Regions from separate parts of the Homo sapiens genome. Here regions 1 and 2 are each linked to region 3. Evidence: fine-mapped expression QTL. A gene starts in region 3. Each other region holds a variant in brackets. All regions are shown on one strand. Distances are from middle to middle. Region 1 overlaps CD96 (CD96 molecule). Region 2 overlaps CD96 (CD96 molecule). Region 3 holds the start of CD96 (CD96 molecule).

Region 1 (4,252 bases), 110 kb after region 3:
AAAGATGTGATAACTAATATTACATCTAGTTCTTTGACCTGTATTTTTTGAGATTTTGCTATATGAAAAGCAGTGTAATAAAAACGGGGCAATGAAATAAATTTAAATCCTTGTCTTCACTCACAAGCAGTTACTACCTAGCCGAGACAAGGAAAGAAAACCAATCCAGATAGCTTTTTGCCCAAATGATCCATGTAATCGAAATACCTAAAGACCTATCTATCATGTATAAGAAATTTCACTGGAGTATCATTAGCAATAACAAAGTCTGGAAACAATTTAACCATCTAACATCGTGAGATAAATTAAATAAACTGGTATATCCATTGAACTATCCAGTCATCTAATAGAATGAGGTAAATCTCTGTGTGGTGATATGGAAAGTATTCCAAGAATGTTTTTTAAGAAAAAGAGGCCAGGTGTATGTCTTTTGGCCTCTTATTCTTAAAAAAACATGTAAAATGTAAAATGTTAAAAATGTAAAATGATTTTTACCTTCTTAGGATACTTTAAAAGCTCAAAATCACTAATCACTAGAGAAATGCAAATTAAAACCACGATAAGATACCATCTCACATAAGTTAGAATGGCTATTACTGAAAAGTAAAAAAAAAAAAAGAAGAAGAAACTGATGCAGGTGAGGATGTGGAGAAAAGGGAATGCTTATACACTGCCGGTGGGAATGTAAATTAGTTCAGCCATTGTGGAAAGCAGTTTGGCTATTGCTCAAAGAACTTAAAAAAAAAATTACTATTTGATCCAGCAATCTCATTATATTGGATATATACCCAAAGGAATATAAATTGTTCTACCATAAAGACACATGGACACGTATGTTTATCACAGCACTATTCACAAAAGCAAAGACATGGAACTAACCTAAACACCCATCCACAGTGACTGGATAAAGAAAACGTGGTACATATACACCATGGAATACTATGAAACCATAAAAAGGAATGAGATAATATTCTTTGCAGCAGCATGGATGGAACTGGAGACCATTATCCTAAGCAAACTCACACAGGAATAGAAAACCATCTACAGCATGTTCTCACTATTAAGTGGGAACTAAACATCGAGTACATATGGACACAAAGACAAGAACAACAAACACTGAGGCCTACTGAAGGTTGAGAGGAGGGTAAAGATTAAAAAAAAAAAAAAAAAAAAACCCTACCTGTCAGGCACTGTTGATTACCTGGGTGACAAAATAATCTGTACACCAAAATCCCCACAGCACATAATTTACCTATATAACAAATTTGCACATGTACCCCTGAACCTAAAATAGTGAAAAAAAAGAAAAAGAAATCATGGACAGAATAGTGTGTATAATATGCCCCCAACTGTAATAAAAAGGGTATATATTCATGGTACATATGTATGCTTATATATATCCACAGAAAATTTCTGGTAGGGTACGTAATTAACTCTTAAAAGTTATCACCTCATGTAGGTAACAAGGCTTAGACATGCCCACCTCCAGAGTATGATCACAGCCAATGTTGAAGAAAATATGTTTCACGTAGGAAAAATGGTTTAATCCTGTTTTCCAAATGCCAAAGTTTGGGATTAAAGTTCATCTTTCTTTATGCCCTTTTCAGGTATTGTGGTCAATAAGCCCAAAGATGGAATGTCCTGGCCAGTGATTGTAGCAGCTTTACTCTTTTGCTGCATGATATTGTTTGGTCTTGGAGTGAGAAAATGGTGTCAGTACCAAAAAGAAATGTGAGTATAATACTAACATATGTAGGAACAGATTAATTTTTCATTATAAAATATTCATCAGTACAATATATTATTACTCTATGAAGTTCCTCCCATATTTTAATGGGGAAATAATGCTCACAGAAGCTCAGAGAGATTATATAGCTTTCCCAGCATTACATAGTTGGGATTAAATACACAACTCCTGACTCAGTATCCCTCTCTGCATTGGCCTAGTCAGGCTGTAACATTCGTCAGATAGAGCAAGTCCGTGGACATGAAATGAGAACTGAGCCTCACCTCTCCTCAAAACTAAAACTGATTTTTCTTTTAATCTTCATTATTTTTTCATTTTCATGCATCTTTGAACTGCCTAGGCTCCACTGGTCATAGATGCTCAAGTGTGAAATTGAGTGAGAAAGGTAATTTTAAGAGATTTCCAGCTG[CT/C]TTTTTTACCAGAGTGGGCTTTTACTGCCCTTTTCTTTTTTTCCCAAGCAGAAAAGAAAGTAAGCATTGGGTTACCCCATTTTTGTCTTATTGAAATATTTTCCAAAAGCCTTCTCCAATCGGCAGTCTGAAATGGTACATAAGGTTAAGCCTCATTTTTCTGACTTGCTATTTTGAGTCAGTCTGGGTTGGGCCATAACTGGAAGGGACCCCAGTACCCAGAACTGATCTTCCACTTGTCTTACTACTACTCTAAGATAACATTAACCATTGTGCCATATACTTTCCTACCTTTTGCAGAGTATCCTTGAAGACTCTGTAACCACATACAGGGAGTGGTGAACAAAACACTAAACCAGTAGTTAGAAATTCTGGATTATTTTCCAAGGACTACAATTTGGCCACCACATGACCTTGAGAAACTCATAATTCCCCAAAAAACAAAAGTAAAACAAAAGTGCATGTTTCGTAGAATTACCTATTAATACATATGAAGTCTCCATTAAAGCATCTAAAAATTGGGTAATAGGGATTAGAGAGCTTTATATTAAATGAACAAATGAAATCTGAAAATCTGAACTGATTTTTTAAATTGTTCTGTATTCAAATGTTTGTTTTATATGGAGATGAGAATCAATCTCTCTATCCTCCTTCCCCCACTACCCACTCTTTATCTCTCCTAAGATGCTATGGATTGCCAGGGCATAGAGGTGTTTGAGTGATGAACATAAAGATGTTCACAGATATATTTCTGTTGCCTGATATCAAGATAGCTAGAGCATTTGTATAGCTAAATTCCATACTAACTTGGCTCTTTAATGCATTTCGGAAAAAGAGATTACTTGTACTAACATAAAATAGTTCTTTGTACAAAGATGACTTTAAGAATGTTCACTGATTCAAACAAAAGGGATTTAGGCATTATCTAGCCAGTACTCGGGGATTGAGAAGAGCTTTACTTCCCATCTCTACCCTATCCCCGCAGTACATAGTGAGTGTTTGGGCAAAGGCTGGGGCTAGGGTTAGCAAAGAGGCTGTATGAAAAGCTTCAGTCTTAAATCCTAGGATTTTAAGATTTAGTCTCTGGAGGAATATTTTAATCCACATAAAAGAAACATTTCTTCTATTAGGAGGCAGTTGTCATGGAGAGTATCAGTTCTGGTGAAAAGACTTGAATTGTTGGTCTGGTTCTCTTGAGCAAGTTGTTTAAAACCTCTGAGCCTCAGTTTTATCTGTAGAATGGTGATGCATTTCCTGCACACAAAGTAAATAATGTTATGATACATTTCCTGCACACAAAGTAAATAATGTTATGATAAAAATGCTCAGTTTTATCTGTAGATGGTGAGGCAATTTCTACATACAAAGTAAATAATGTTATGATAAAAATTCTTTGCAAACTACAAAATACCGTATAGATCATGAGGTTCAAATGTGACTAACAGGCACAGGGTTATGCCAGCAAAAATGCTGAAAGAACTGGGAGAGTATGTCTCTTTCTCATCAATCTGTGTTCTCCTTTAAAGAAACAACACATGTCTGTGTGTGTGTGTGCATAAGACTCCCTCAATTCTTAGCATTGAAAGACCAATATTTTGTTCCTAGAATGGAAAGACCTCCACCTTTCAAGCCACCACCACCTCCCATCAAGTACACTTGCATTCAAGAGCCCAACGAAAGTGATCTGCCTTATCATGAGATGGAGACCCTCTAGTCTCGTGAGACTTTGCCCCATGGCAGAACTCTGCTGGAATCCTATTGAGAAGGTAGACATTGTGCTTTATTAATATAGTCGCTCTTCAGCCATGCCTTTGCTGCAGCTGAAATGGAAGTCAGAAGTGAGTGACCTGTTTTCCCAGCAACTCACCCTCTTCCATCTCCAAACGCCTGAAGCTTAACCAAGAGTGAGAGGATATGTCATGTTCACACTCAATGCAATTCGTAGTGGTTTTCTTGCTTATGTAAGAAGTACATATTAGTCTGCCATCTTTAAAAAAAAATACAGTATTTTCATTTAAATTCTCTGATGGAGGGACAACAATGGTTTCAACTGTATGCCCATGCCTGATCCTCTTATTTGAACATCTATCAACAT
Region 2 (4,252 bases), 100 kb after region 3:
ACAAGCTAGAAGAGACTGGGGACCTATCTTGAACCTCCTCAAACAAAAGAATTTTTAGCCAAGAATTTTGTGTCCAATGAAGCTAAGCATCATATATGAAGGAAAGATACAGTTGTTTTCACACAAACAAATCCTGGGAGAATTTTACCAAACCACCACTACAGGAACTGCTAAAAGGAGCTCTAAATCTTGAAACAAATCCTGGAAACACATCAAAATGAACCTGTTTATGCATAAATCACACAGGACCTATGAAACAAAAATACAAGTTAAAAAGCAAAAACAAAAATCCAAAGTACACAGATAACAAAGAGCAAGATGAAAGCAATGGTACCTCATATTTCAATACTAATACTGAATGTAAATGGCCTAAATGTTCCACTTAATAGATACAGAACAGCAGAATGGATAAGAACTTACCCATCAACTATTTGCTGCCTTCGGGAGACTCACCTAACACATAAGGACTCATATAAACTTAAAGTAAAGGGGTGGAAAAAGGCATTTCATGCCAATGGACACCAAAAGCGAGCAGGGGTAGCTATTCTCATATCAGACAAAACAAACTTTAAAGCAACAGTGGTTAAAAAAGACAAAGAGGACAGTATATAATGGTAAAAGGCCTTGTCTAACAGGAAAATATCACAATTCTAAACATACATCCACCTAATATTGGAGCTCCCAAATTTATAAAACAATTACTAATAGACCTAAGAAATGAGATAGACAGCAACAAAATAATAGTGGGGGACTTCAATACTCCACTGACAACACTAGACAGGTCATCAAAACCAAAAATCAACAAAGAAACAATGGATTTAAACTATACCTTGAAACAAATGGACTTAACAGATATATACAGAACATTTCATCCAACAACTGCCGAATACACACTCTATTCAACAGTGCATGGAACTTTCTCCAAGATAGACCATATGATAGGCCATAAAATGAGCTTCAATAAATTTAAGAAAACTGAAATTATATCAAGCACTCTCTCAGACCACAGTGAAATAAAACTGGAAATCAACTCCAGAAGGAACCTTCAAAACCACGCAAATACACGAAAATTAAATAACCTGCTCCTGAATGAGCATTGGGTCAAAAATGAAATCAAGATGGAAATTTAAAAATTCTTCGAACTGAATGACAGTAATGACACAACCTATCGAACCTCTGGGATACAGCAAAGGTGGTGCTAAGAGGAAAGTTCACAGCCCTAAACACCTACAACAAAAATCTGAAAGAGTGCAAACAGACAATCTAAGGTCACACCTCAAGGAACTAGAGAAACAAGAACAAACTGAACCGAAATCCATCAGTAGAAAGGAAATAGCCAAGATCAGAGCACAATACAATTGAAACAACAACAACAAAAATGCAAAAGATAAATGAAACAAAAACTAGTTCTTTGAAAAGGTAAATAAAATTGAAAGACCATTAGTGAGATTAACCAAGAAAAGAAGAGAGAAAATCCAAATAACCTAATTAAGAAATGAAATGGGAGATATTACAACTGACACCACAGAAATACAGAAGATCATTCAAGGCTATTGTGAACCCCTTTATGCACATAAACTAGAAAACCTAGAAGAGATGGATAAATTTCTGGAAAAATACAACCCACCCAGCTTAAATCAGGAAAAATTAGATACCCTAAACAGACCAATAAGAAGCAGCGAGATTGAAATGGCAATTTAAAAATTACCAACAAGGGCTGAGCGCAGTGGCTCAGTGGCTCATGCCTGTAATCCCAGCACTTTGGGAGGCTGAAGCCAGTGGATCATGAGGTCAAGAGTTCACGACCCGCCTGGCCAAGACAGTGAAAACCCGTCTCTACTAAAAATACAAAAATCAGCCAGGTATGGTGGCAGGCGCCTATAATCCCAGCTACTTGGGAGGCTGAGGTGGGAGATTTGCTTGAGTCTGGGTGGCAGAGGTTGCAGTGAGCAGAGATTGTGCCATTGCACTCCAGCCTGGGTGACAAACTGAGACTCCGCCTAAAAAA[A/T]AAATAAATAAATAAAAGAAAAATTACCGACAAAACAAAGTCCAGGCCCAGATGGATTAACAGCAGAATTCTACCAGACATTCAAAAAAGAATTGGTACCAATCCTATTGACACTATCCACAAGATAGAGAAAGAAGGAATCCTCCCTAATTCATTCTGTGAAGCCAGCATCACCCTAACACCAAAACCAGGAAAGGACATAACCAAAAAAGAAAACTACAGACCTATATCCTTGCTGAACATAGATGCCAAAATCCTTAAAAAAAAAAAAAAAAAAAACTAGCTAACCAAATTCAACAACATATCAAAAGGATAATCCACCTTGATCAAGTGAGTTTCATACCAGGGATGCAGGGATGGTTTAACATACACAAGCCGATAAATGTGATACACCACATAAACAGAATTAAAAACAAAAATCACATGATCATCTCAATTGATACAAAAAAAAATTCAACAAAATCCAACATCCCTTTATGATTAAAACTCAGCAAAATTGGCACACAAGGGACATACCTTAATGTAATAAAAACCATCTATGACAAACCCACAGCCAACACAATACTGAATGGGGAAAAGATGAAAGCATTCCCTCTTAGAACTAGGGCAAAACAAGAATGCCCACTCTCACCACTCCTCTTCAATGTAGTACTGGAAGTCCTAGCCAAAGCAATCAGACAAGAGAAAGAAATAAAGGGCATCTAAATCAGTAAAGAGGAAGTCAAACTGTCACTGTTTGCTGATGATGACTGTTTACCTTGAAAACCCTAAGGACTCCTCTAGAAAGCTCCTAGAACTGATAAAAGAATTCAGCAAAGTTTCCGAATACAAGATTAATGTACACAAATCAGTAGCTCATCTATACACCAACAGCAACCAAGCAGAGAATCAAATCAAGAACTCAACCCCTTTTACAATAGCTGCAAAAAAAAAAAAAAAAATGAAATACTTAGGAATATCCTAACAAAGGAGTCTAAATTCCTCTAAAAGAAAAACTACAAAACACTGCTGAGATAAATCATAGATGACACAAACAAATGGAAACACATCCCATGCTCATGGATGGGTATAATCAATATTGTGAAAATTACCATACTGCCAAAAGCAATTTAGAAATTCAATGCAATACCCATCAGAATACCACCATCATTCTTTGCAGAATTAGAAAAAACAATCCTAAAATTCATATGGAACCAAAAAAGAGCCCACATAACCAAAGCAAGACTAAGCAAAAAGAACAAATCTGGAGGCATCACATACCTGATTTCCAACTATACTATAAAGCCATAGTCATCAAAACAGCATGCTACTGGTATAAAATACGCACATAGACCAATGGAACAGAATAAGCCCAAATACTTACAGCCAACTGATCTTCAACAAAGCAAACAAAAACATAAAGTGGGGAAAGGACACCCTTTTCAATAAATGGTGCTGGGATAATTGTCTAGCCACATGTAGGAGAATTAAACTGGATCCTCATCTTATACAAAAATCAACTCAAGATGGATTAAGGATTTAAACCTAAGACCTGAAACTAAAAATTCTAAAAGATAACATTGGAAAAATTCTTCTAGACATGAGCTCAGGCAAGGATTTCATGACCAAGAACCCAAAAAGAAATGCAATAAAAACAAAGATAAATAGCAAGCACCCAAAAGCAAATGCAATAAAAACAAAGATAAAAAGCAAATGCAATAAAAACAAAGATAATTAAACTAAAGAGCTTTTCCACAGCAAAAGGAACAGTCAGCAGAGTAAACAGATGACCCAGAGAGTGAGAGAAAACCTTCACAATCTATACTTCTGACAAAGAACTACTATCCAGAATCTACAACTAACTCAAACAAATTAGTAAGAAAAAAACAAACAACCCTATCAAAAAGTGGGCTAAGGACATGAATAGACAATTCTCAAAAGAAGATATACAAATGGCTAACAAACATATGAAAAAATGCTCAACATCACTAATAATCAGGGAAATGCAAATCAAAATGACAATGCGATACCACCTTAGTCCTGTAAGAATGGCCATAATCAAAAAAAATGGTAGATGTTGGCATGGATGTGGTGAACAGAGAACGCTTCTACCCTGCTAGTGGGAATGTAAACTAGTACAGCCACTATAGAAAACAGTGTGAAGATTCCTTAAAGAACTAAAAGTAGAGCCATCATTTGATCCAGCAATCCCACTACTGGATATCTGCCCAGAGGAAAAGAAGTCATTATTCGAAAAAGATACTT
Region 3 (4,252 bases):
ACTAAGCCCTGAACAATACACAGAAGACAGATTTGCCGTATAGCCACTAAATGCATGGCTCAGGTAGCCCAACCCCAATGAGAGGCAAGAATTCTACTGAAAGTAAGTCTGTAGCACTGGAAAATAAACGACCATTTCCATGTTTCTGAGTTTACAGACTTTTTTGGAACAACTGTTTCACTTTAATACAATAAAAGATAGGAGAAGTCTAAATACCCCAAAGAGGGTATTGTTCTTAGAGAATTCAATAAATGTATATTTGAATTGGTTTCTACTTAGGTAAATTCCTCTTAATATGAAAAATGGAACGAGATCATAGAATCCCTTCTCCAGGCTTGTAATGTGTCCTGATTTAATAGGGACACCAACGTGCAAATCAGGATCTTCATAGTGCATCTCCAGGACTATTTTTGCTGCTATGCTTCATAAAACTTTGATTTACTAGAATTTCCAGGGGCAATGGGAAGAGATGAAGCTACCCAGAGCAGTTATGTCTCTTCCTGACCTTCTATAAAGGACTTTGAGTTCCCAGGCCTTCCCTGGAAAATCACTGTCAGTACTACCTGACCCAATATCCCCAGTGACCTGAAACTCATGGGAAGTTGGGAAGGGGTGATAATAAAGGTTTGGGGAGCACTGGACTAGGCAAGCAGTAACTACATCTAAATTCTGCAAGAAATCATTAGCTGAGGAATACTGAATAAGTATGGCAATTATCATGGCAAGTATTTGCAGTGGTGGTATAGGGGGTGATCTGGACGTCCAGGAAGACAGTCGCCCTTGTTTATTTACATGAAAACCTCTCTTCTCCCATCTAAATTTAATCTCCTGAATGGCAAAAGCATTTCCTTCTGTCTTAGCATCGTCCATATTCACCACGAGTCCTTGCATAGGAGAGATTGGTGTATACATGATGACAACCTGACGAAAATTATCTCCACCTCACCTGAAAAGAATTCCCATCTCAGGATTACAACTGGCCTTTTCATTTGTCTTTGGTCTTGCTAGGTGGTACGTATATTCTAGTAATGAGATTAGGGTCACAGGATATTTTAATCATTCATACGGTTGTATGAAGACACACATGTTTATTTGTAGTTATTCTTTGTCCATCAAACTTACAGTAGTCCTCAGTCTAATGCTTGTTTTCTTAATGTTGGAGGGTGATGACAGCCTATTTTATCTCAGGCTGAAAAACTAATACAATTAAATCAGAGAATCATAGCAGGGAACAGTCATCGTGTTCTACGAATAGCCAGACATTTTTACCAAGGGGTCACTTTCCTGAAACCTGTTTGCGGTTCTCTGTAAATAGAAGTAACTAGGCAGATGTAATAAGCCTAATAGCTCACTGAGGTGGGAATTCTCTGCCTTTGGATTCTGATTGTTACTGCCTTGCTTTGGCTTAGGCATGGATAAACTCTTCTGTGGTGAACAAAAATGGCCTCCAGCCAACCTGGTGGGAGACTTCCCTATCTGACCTCCAACCTTCCCTCGTCTTCCCAGACGAGGGGTAGAAAAGTAGCCCTCACTCCTCCACTCCCAGGAAATGTGCATTTCCCTGCAAGAGGAGAGACAATAAAATTTGGTTTGATAGCTGACACTATTCCCTGTTACTTTTCAGATTTTATTAAAATTAAATGTGTTAATTCTTTGTTCTTTCACCCCAGGGCAATTCTGGAAAGAAAACATATCTTAAGATTGAACAGAAAAACTATTATGAAAAACACCAAGCTCACATTTGTTAAATGACTTTGTGCTCTTGAAAAAAATGTATAAAAAGCACATTGCCAACTGCTCTGCGTGATATCCTTTGTTTGGATTTTAGACGCAGCTTGACTGACACAGAGATCCTGAATAAGAGACTCTTTGGATACTGAAAAGTCTCTTAAATAAGGTGATACACAAATTTCAGAGAACAATTTCAACATTGTTCTGTCGAACGTTATACTCAGTCCTGAACCACATTACTTTCCTGTCTACGTTTCATTTCCTGGGGGCTTGCCAAGTGATAAACAGACCCAGGCGTGTGTGGTAGAGTTCGGGTTTTTTAGCACGAAGTGGGTGGCTGGAGTTTGCTTGAAAACATCAATTGACTTTGTGATCATTACAGAAATGCTGGTGTAAGGTGTTCAGAAGACAATGGAGAAAAAATGGAAATACTGTGCTGTCTATTACATCATCCAGATACATTTTGTCAAGGGTAAGACTTCCAGTTGTCCCTTCTTGTCGGATGGGCCGCTTTAGGGGCGGATGGGGCCTCTGTTCATTTAAAATGCCTTGTGACTGCTGCTGAAATTGATCACCAAAGGACAAATCATTACTAAGGGTTTCAGTTATGTATTTAAGCGGCAGGTATAAGAGAGATGCTAGAATCTAGAAATGATTACTAATGAACACTAAAAATAAGAAGGGAATGGGTCATTTGTGCCACTGCTCTGAGGCATTTTCACCCATTTCCTTTCTAACAGGATCTCTGGAGTAATTGGCAAATTGTGTTTCTTGGAAATGAAATGCTCTCCAAATGGTAGCCAAAACAACTGCGGAAAAATTAAAAATTACAAAGCCATCAACGCTCAGAGATCCTTGTTTAACTTTTTTCTCTCTCAAGTACTCTCTTTCTTTTGGATATAACAAGTATTTCTCATCCAAATACTAAGGTCTTTGGGAGTTGAAAACACGTTGAATTTTAATGAGGCATGTGTAGGTATGAACCTGGGAGACAAAGTGGAATCCTTATGACAGTGGGAACGAGAGCCTAATGGGCCTATTTAAAAAGAGAAGGAAGCAAGATTAGTTCTGTATTCCACAGTATGAGAGTATCATAGTAAGCCTGAGTGTCTTAAGAATTAACTGTGCTTTTCAGACATAGCTATGAAAATATTAAGGAGAATTTCTAAATCAAAAGAGATTTGGAATATAATGCTGTAGATAGGATCAGAGCCATATTTTCAGGCAAAGGATAGCTCACAGGAAGTTACATTAAACTGTACTAACCTCTGCCTACCAAACTTTTGCATCCACAGAAGTATGATAATTCCCATTTGTCAAGTACTTTTACTTTTAAGAGGCTTGTTTCTTCTCAGTTGCTTGTCATCTTTTTATCTTTTCCTTTTGTGAGCTTCAGTGGTACTTGTCACAATAATATATATCATTTCTGTAACAGGATTCCATGTTAATTCTAAAACTGAGGCCAACACTATTGAAGGCATGTCACAGTCTCAATGCTTAACACATTTTAAGTGTCCTGTATCACTCAGTCAGACTGCTGATGGGAAAGAGACTCTACTTATGTCTAGTATTTCAGACCATCGATTAGAGGTGATACTAAGTGGAACCTCTACCTAAGGTTAGATGAGGTCCTTTCAATCCTTGTATATTGAAAGTGAAATTTCTTACTCTAATCAACTAGACTGAATTTGGGAGACAGTTTGGAAGTTATGTGGAAGGAAAATAAAATAAAATAAGTAATAATAAAGTTTAAAATAATAAGCATAACATAGGTAATAGTTAACATTAAGTATAGGTTACTTAGAAGTTATATGTAGGCTAAGAAATTTAAGTAGCCCCTCCCAGCATTGCTAACAAGTTGCAGCTGTGAGCTTATCTCAACCTTCCAAGCTTCTTGCCTGCCCCCAGACCCCCACATATTTCTGTAACTCCTGTTTTACCTTACCCCATCTCTGTCTAGCTTCAAGATTGACTGGTTAAGATAACTAAATTGTAAGTTTTCTCAGAATTGTCACGGGTTAAATAATTTACTGTCTTTGCCTGAAACCTGTATCCTGCCTTGTTTTCCCACCTCAAACGACATATAAGCAAGCCTGCTTTCTTTGTCAGAGTCAGCAGCCATTTTGGGCATGAGTCTGCTGTGGGCCTGGATGCCTGAATTAAATAAAGTTCTCTTTGGTCTCTAAAGGTCTCTTTGTCTTCCTTGGCTGGAGTTTTACTGTTATACTTATGAGGGTTATAGAAAGACCACAGACTCTGGGCAACTGAATTCATTCTTTTACTGGAGGTGTGACTTTTTTTGTTTTGTTTCGTTTTTCGTTTTTTTGAGATGGAGTCTCACTCTGTTGCCAGGCTGGAGTGCAGTGGCATGATTTCGGCTCACTGTAATCTCCGCCTCCCAGGTTCAAGCGATTCTCCTGCTTCAGCCTCCCAAGTAGCTGGGACTACAGGCGTGCACCACCACGCCCAGCTAATTTTTGTATTTTTAGTAGAGACGGGGTTTTGCCGTGTTGGCCAGGAT

What was found. PIP is the estimated chance that this variant, and not a neighbour inherited with it, causes the effect. A credible set is the group of variants that fine-mapping cannot tell apart.
Region 1: its variant is the best candidate, but not a certain one, in a credible set for the expression of CD96 in whole blood (INTERVAL, PIP 0.74).
Region 2: its variant is the best candidate, but not a certain one, in a credible set for the expression of CD96 in whole blood (INTERVAL, PIP 0.86).

The regions. Positions count from the first base shown.
Region 1 is chr3:111,645,936-111,650,187 of GRCh38, forward strand. CD96 (CD96 molecule) reads left to right here. Exons shown (of 14, transcript NM_005816.5): 13 at 1,608-1,731; 14 at 3,763-4,252. The coding sequence ends at 3,871. Among named protein-coding and RNA genes, the nearest start is that of PLCXD2, 27 kb to the right of the region's middle. The variant CT/C (reference allele first, on the strand shown) is at 2,157.
Region 2 is chr3:111,640,804-111,645,055 of GRCh38, forward strand. All of the region lies in intron 12 of CD96 (CD96 molecule), which reads left to right. Among named protein-coding and RNA genes, the nearest start is that of PLCXD2, 32 kb to the right of the region's middle. The variant A/T (reference allele first, on the strand shown) is at 2,009.
Region 3 is chr3:111,540,107-111,544,358 of GRCh38, forward strand. CD96 (CD96 molecule) reads left to right here and starts at 2,091. Exons shown (of 14, transcript NM_005816.5): 1 at 2,091-2,203. The coding sequence starts at 2,143. LOC105374039 (a long non-coding RNA gene) reads left to right here. Exons shown (of 3, transcript XR_001740846.1): 3 at 1,829-1,897.